Linked DNA regions of Homo sapiens. The protein of the gene in region 1 interacts with the protein of each later gene in a biochemical or structural test. Each region holds a gene or a part of one and is shown on either strand. Other genes may lie near its edges.

Region 1 (3,827 bases):
TTCACACAAAAGATATGTCACTTAATGACACGGATATGCTTTGAGAAATGCATTATTAGGTGATTTCATTACATGCACAGCACAGAGTGTACTTACACAAACGTAGATGGTATAGCCTATGACACGCCTAAGCTATATGGGATAGCCTATTGCTCCAGGCTGCAAACATGTACAGCATGTTACTGTACTGAATAGGGAACTGTAACACAATAGTATTTGTGTATCTAAACATAGGAAATGTACAGCAAAAACATGGTATCATAATCTAACGGGAACACATTCAAATACGTGGTCTGTTGACTAAAATGTTATGTGGTGCGTGACTATACTGATTCATACTACAGTATGGATGAGGCTTAAAAACATTAAGTGAGCCGGGTGCAGTGGCTCACGCCTATAATCCCAGCACTTTGGGAGGCCAAGACAGGTAGATCACCTGACGTCAGGAGTTCGAGACCAGCCTGGCCAACATGGTGAAACCCGTCTCTACTAAAAATACAAAAATTAGCTGGGCATGGTGGTGCACACCTGTTATCCCAGCTACTCAGGAGGCTGAGGCAGGAGAATCGCTTGAACCCAGAAGGCAGAGGTTGAAGTGGGCCAAGACTGCGCCACTGCACCCCAGCCTGGGCGACAAAGCGAGACTCCATCTCAAAAACACCTTCTGCAGAGGATGGGGGCAAGGAAGGAAACAAATGGAATTTTTTTCTTCAGGCCCACAGTGTAAAACACTAGGAACTGTTATTTCTACTACAAGCTACGGGTTTAAAAAGTCTACAAGCAAAAAAGATAAATGGTTCTACAGACAAAAATCATTTATTTCAATATGAAGTATTAGACTGTTTATTACTCTGTGCAGTAAAATTCATCTTAGCTGCTGACAGATTACCAAAAACTGGATGCAGAATATTTTCTAATAGATCACTTCACACAACTAAATGTATATTCTCCCTATTACTGCATGAAATGACATACCAGGCAACATGAAGGAGAAGATGCAGTAGGGACTAGACACATGAAAAAACATTCTGAACGAGAAAAAATACACATATTTCCTAGTAAAAGACATTCGTTTTGATACTTTGGAAAACCAAGTTAAATTAAAAAGGCAAGTCAGTGTTACTAGCCAAAATAATTAATGAAACTACTAAATTAAAATTTAGGAAAAAGATTTTCTTAAATGACTCAAAATGTGGCAGCCAGATAGAACAAAAGAATCTCTCATTTTTAATAGCTTTTTCTAGCTGATACATGAGGTCCTAGTCATTCTATGTTAACAAAATGGGTCTTGCTACAAGTTACCCAAGGACTATCAGAAAATCCACTTGATGATTTAGAATAAAAACCTAAAATTGTAAAAATACATGTATTTTTCAAAACAGATCACAGAATCATCCAGAAGTATTAAAGTCCGTCATTTATATTAAGTAATACTAACCTGTCTTGAATATTCTTTCTGACAATGAGAAAATATGATTTAATGAGTCGTTCAATAACCTCACAATCTCGCTGTTCCCGAGCAGATAGTTTTCGTGCAACAGGAACTGGCTAAATAGGGATGAGGGGGAAAAAATATTACTTTTGTGACACTAAAATGGCAGCTTTAACATCTGAAAGTTATGTAAGTTTTTGAGACTTTTAGTTCTTTCTGTCTAATCGTTTTCCTACTAACTTGGTCACCTACCTTATTACCTAAACCAAATTGTCATGGCTTACCACATCTAGCAGGTTCACGGCATGACCTTTTTGTGGACTGGCTGGCATAATTGGAATGGGTTTTGATTTTTCTTCTGCTAATAACTCTTCAGCTTTTGAAGTTTTCAGCATTCCTCTCCAGTTGCCTGTGGTTGGTTCTTGAACACCATCTCCAACCCCACCACCTCCAGATGCAACCTGAAAAAACATGTTCCAAAACATACCAACCACATCATATCTGACCTTAACTAAAACAAAGTTCATTTTATTTGACAGTAGTCAATATACATCCAGTACCCATCTGAAGTTTATTCAGACAGATAATGAGGTCAGAAGGAGACACTAGGTAGCATGTATAACTGGAACCCTGACCTATCTAAATAATAAAGAAGTTCTGCTCTAAGTTGTTTGCAAGGCATCAACCAACTTATGTTCTATTTAATTCCTTTTTTCTTTATCATTCGCTAACTTTTCAAAATCGTTCCTCTTCTCCCACCCTTCAAACACTAAATTGTAGGAAAAGTATATGCTGCCCTTAAAAACAAAACTACTCGTTAAAAGCACAAAGAACTGCTATTCAGTTTAATTTCTTAAGTAATCATTAACACTGTTAAACTCTAAAAGTTCCATGAACTTACGTCTCTGAACTTAAGAGTTTATATGTTTCTCAATTTACATTTCTAATAGTCAACAAAAATGCCATAAGGTATAAGTAAGAACTCTTTAACAAAAAGCAAGACTACATTTGCTATTCTTAGGCTGACAGTCACTGTGAGTTGTTTCAAATGCGGAATGTGACAAACAACAGAAGTCCCCTCAACCTCTGTACTCTTAAGGATTTGCTGAAAGAAATCTAGTGCTACCATTAATCACAAGTGCTTTTGTACCTTGTTTTCTAGAAAATGTATTAGTCTTGACTTCTAAAAGTCAAAAATGACTTTATAATGGAAAAACAATTCATCAACATTTAAGAGGGTTTTTTTTAGGTATTCTTTAAGATCTTACAATCTAAAAATGGATTATATAAGTTTAATAGAGGATTATGGCAGTTAGAAAAATGGTAGTTTGAGGTATCATTCTGAATCAAAATATTTGCTAAAATCTGTCTTTAGTATGTCAGTTAAGGTGAACTACATTTAAATATAAGTAGTATATTTATGTTACACATTAACTTAAAAATGAGTAATTAGATTTTTAAATGTTTGTTAACTATACATGAATGACATACCAAATGAAATCTTAAGGAGAGAGAGCACATTCAGTGTGACGTCATGAATGAAATAAAACTTGTGCAGTGATTTAGATGGTTTGATTAATATCTGAGCACAGTGGGCTGAGAGAAGATAAGACATTTATAAACCTTTATTTGAAGTTCAGAACTTTAAATCTGGATAATTAAGGAAAGGAGCTAAATGGCAGAAAATCTTGAAATAGCGATGAGTCTGAATAATTTATACATTATTTAATTTTCCTCTAAAATGGTTATCAAGAATTGAAAACAGTCTCAAACTCTCACAGTCCCCATTTGTTTTTTTAATTTGCTTAAGCTTCTGAAGCATATGTGAAGCTATATATAGGGTAACAAGTGCAAACTAACTGGAAGCATAAGAAAGAAGCATTAGATCTATTAGTACTGAACAGATCTCAAGATCTTTAAAGAGGAAAGGAAATGTCCAAAAATACAATTCCATCTCTGAAATCTAGGAAATCTCTGAATTTCCTACCAAAATACTAAATTTAAAACTATTCTTGAAGGTAACAAAACAGTGAGAAAGCCTATTATTGTTACTAATTAAAACAACGTTTAATGCCATCTTCCACAGGTTAGATAAAAGGAACATTAAGAACATAACACAGACAAGAGATAGATACCACTACACAAACAGGTTCTTTAATGGTGGTATAGACAGTGTTTCAGTGAGAACCAAAGGTACCAACATTTCCATTCTGAAGCAAGAGACTCACATTTTTAGTTTCTCTTCTGCTGTCCTGAATTAACTGTTAAAAGATATGTTAAAACATGCAATTTAACAAGCAAAATTTAAATACCAATGGGTTGAAATTCAAAAAGTGCAGGATAATTTCCTCTTTAAATTACTTTTTCTGTGTGCATCTTCTATATTGCAAGCAAA
Region 2 (3,827 bases), on another chromosome or scaffold:
TGGTCTCGAACTCCTGAGCTCAAGTGTTCTGCCCACCTTGGCCTCCCAAAGTGTTGGGATTACAGGTGTGAGCCACTGAGCCCAACAAAAATACTAAAAAAAACAAAACAAACAAAAAACCCCCCACTAAAATAGCCATGGCAACATTATGGTTTTTTTTTTTGTTTTTTTTTGAGACAGAGTCTTGTTCTGTCGCCCAGGCTGCAATGCAGTGGCACAATCTCGGCTTGACTCACTGCAAACTCTGCCTCCCGGGTTCAAGCAATTCTCCTGCCTCGGCATCCTGAGTAGCTGGGATTACAGGTGTGTGCCACCACACCTTGCTCATTTTTGTATTTTCAGTGGAGACGGTGTTTCACCATGTTGGCCAGGCTGGTCTCGAACTCCTAATCTCATGATTTGGCTGCCTCAGCCTCCCAAAGTGCTGGGATTACAGGCGTGAGCCACTGCGCCCGGCCGACATTATGGTTTTTAAAAAATTAAACTTTATAGTAAAAAAACAAATAGTGTGTGAATTAAGGACTTGAAAATTAAGATTTTCAAAATATCAATCAATATTTATTGATGTTTTTGGTTGGGCACGGTGGCTCACACCTGTAATCCCAGGTGGATGTTTTTCTTTTCTTTTTTTTTTTTTTGAGACAGAGTGTCACTCTGTTCCCCCAGGCTGGAGTGCAATGGTGCTATTTCAGCTCACTGCAACCTACACCTCCTGGGTTCAAGCAATTCTCATGCCTCACCCTCCCGAGTAGCTGGGATTACAGGTGCATGCCATCTCGCCCAGATAATTTTTGTTATTTTTAGTAGAGATAGGGTTTCACCATGTTGGCCAGGCTGGTCTTGAACTCCTAACCTCAAGTAATCCACCCACCTTGGCCTCCCAAAGTACTGGGATTACAGGTGTGAGCCACCATGCCCGGCCTGGATGTTTGTTTTGTTTCAATCTGAGATTTTTTTTTTTTTCCAGATAGGGTCTCATTGTGTTGCCCAGGATGGAGTACAGTGGCACAATCTTGGCTTATGCAATCTCTGCCTCCCGGGTTCAAGAGATTTTCATGCCTTAGCCTCCTGAGTAGCTGAGATTACAGGTACACACCATGACCAGCTAATTTTTGTATTTTTTGGTAGAGATGGGGTTTCACCATGTTGGCCAGGCTTGGTGATCTCTTGACCTCAAGAGATCCACCCACTTCGGCTTCCCAAAGTGCTGGGATTACAAATGTGAGCCACTGTGCCTGGCCTCAATGCAGAATTTTAAAATGTCTTTCAGAATCATCCTTCAGTGGTTATGCACTTAGTTTTATTCATCCCGGAGGCTGAGAAATAGTTTCCTAAGTTCAAGCAGCTTCCTGGAAGTTGGGTCACAGTGTCTAGTGCTACATAGTTATATAACATGTAGCACTAGACACTTTGCATGCTTGCATACAATTCTCCTTTAATATGCTTACACCCCAAGTTAAATTTGATTGTTCATAAATTCCTGGGCAAGTAAATGTCCTCTAGGTTTTTTGATGGCTGATTCTCTCAATCTGTTCAAAGCCCACCTCTTCTTCAGGAATCTACTCAGAGCCTTCGTGTTTTTCCTCTATACTCACCCCCATTTTCTGTGGGACTTTTATGCAGAAGGGGGAAAGGTACAAATTATCAATGTAGACTGAACAGTTGGGATAAATATCTTCCCTCCCCAACATGTGCATTGTCCAAAATTTAAAATCACGAATCATGGGGAGAACAGTTAAGCCAGTGACTGCGGGTTTTGGGAAGGACACATAGCCCAATTTGTCAGGAGTGACGAGACCATGCTTGTGCTAAGAGGGCCATAAAACTGTAGCTGTACAAAGAACGCAAGTGTCCATCTCTGAATTTTCCATGCATGAATGTGTAAACATATATACAATTCAGCTTTTCCTCTTCTCTCCAGACTTTTGCTCCATTCTGCTCATTGCAGTCCCAGCTCCTCTTTCCAGAAGTGATGAGGAAGGAAAAAGAGCTCAAGAAACCATCACCAAAGTGTGATCAGACCCATATTCATGAAGTTCTTGATTTTCTAAGCTTCCACAGGACCCTTTTAAATATTCACTGAGTCCCTGGGAGCCCTTCTGCATTTGTTTTAGGATATGTCATATAGCTATGGTTTTTTGCTTCACATCCTTAGCGTTGTCATATCAATTGAACTGGGCACCAATAACCATCTGCTACTTCTTTACGGTAGAATTACAGGTCTAGGGCCTTCTGCTAGACATTCATGGCTTTTGTGTCATCCTTCAGATTCTAAGGCTGCTGCTTTCTAAGTATAATCTGTGTTAAGGGTGGATCTAGCTAGATATTTCTTCTACTCCTCCAGCTCTGGCTGTACACTTTGGATATAACTGCTGTAGAATTTGGCATCCTGTGGAGGATGCCATTTGATGGCTTCTGTATAAAGCTGGCATGGCTTGGAGATAGTTCCATTTCTGAAACCACTCAATGCCTTTACTCTTCTCCTCCAAAATCAGGTCAGATTTTATATATGCCAACTGATTTTGCTCTTTCCAGATTAATTCCTAACTATTGACGATTCTTGTGTATATCTGGGGTTCAGTGCTCTTCCAAAGATTTATTATAGAAATGAATAGTATTCTCGTATTTCTCCTCTTTGAAGTAAGAGATGCCAACTTGGGCAAAAGCTTTTACTCTCTATCTTTAGACCAGTCTGTTTTTTCTTCCAACTTCAATGGCCTTCTCACAAAGCTCTTAGGGTTTATTGTAGCTGATTTTTTCAAAGCATATCACGGCTTGATTGATAGGATTTAACGGCAGAGTCCACATCTTTGACTTAGTCACACTGTTCAAGGTTGTGTCAAATCTTCTTACAGGCAGCATTTTCCAACTCTTTCTTTACAGTTCTTCTTTCTTGTTCTCTGGAAGATCCTTCCCCACTGGCTCCAGTTCGGATTCCTTTTTGAGAAGAGCTGGTAATGTCAGTGTTACAGCTTCTTTCTCCTCATTCACACTGCCTAGTCTACTGTAGGAACACTGAAAACTGTCATGACTTGGGCATTTTGTATTTCATGCCCAGATCACATGGTTTATTGAACAGTTGCTTTGTTAGTTCCCAGCAGACAGAATCACCAAGCAATGGTCTTATCTTAGAGCTGATTTCCAAATATTGGTGGAGATTAGGCATATTGAAAGTGTTTGTCAACTTCCTCTCTTCCAGCCAAGCCTCACATTTTTAAACTGTCTTTGAGCTAAGGGATTATTTATGTTATGTTTTAAGCCCTCCTCAAGGGCTCACCTGGATTCTTTAAGCCAGTTTAAGAACTCAAGTACAACTGCTTTCTACAAATTTATCCCTTGCATCAATCAGGCTTTCAGACAACAATTTTATAGGCTTCCTCATAAGCCTTCTCCTTTCTTGAGATAGGTCAGTGGTTTTCAGTAGGGGGTGATCTTGCCCTGTAGAGAACATTTGGCAATGTCTGGAGGTATTTTCTTTTTTATTTTAAAACACACATAACATACACAATTTTAACCATGTTGAAGTGTACAATTCAGCGGCATTTAGTACACTCACAACGTTGTGTAATCATTACCACTATCTAATTCCGGAATATTTTCATCAGCCCAAAAGGAAACCCCATACTGATTAAGCAGTCACTCTCAAGTCCCCTCTCCTCTAACCCCCTGACAACCACTGCTCTGTATCCTGTCTTCATTCATTTGGCCACTCTGGATATTTCATGTAAGTAGAAAAATGCAATATATGGCCTTTGTTGTCTGGCTTCTTAAACTTTACATGTTTTCAAGGTTCATCCATGTTGTGGCATGTATCAGTACCTTTTTTT

The links.
Region 2: the proteins of DNM1L (region 1) and MFF form a complex in vitro, tested with the Homo sapiens proteins (one study listed by BioGRID).

Annotation. Positions count from the first base shown.
Region 1 is NC_000012.12:32,738,130-32,741,956, reverse strand, and holds part of DNM1L (dynamin-1-like protein), read right to left. Parts: intron 3,694-3,827; coding exon 3,661-3,693; intron 1,894-3,660; coding exon 1,717-1,893; intron 1,549-1,716; coding exon 1,439-1,548; intron 1-1,438. UniProt on the Homo sapiens protein: Functions in mitochondrial and peroxisomal division.
Region 2 is NC_000002.12:227,335,181-227,339,007, reverse strand, and holds part of MFF (mitochondrial fission factor), read right to left. Parts: intron 1-3,827. UniProt on the Homo sapiens protein: Plays a role in mitochondrial and peroxisomal fission. Promotes the recruitment and association of the fission mediator dynamin-related protein 1 (DNM1L) to the mitochondrial surface.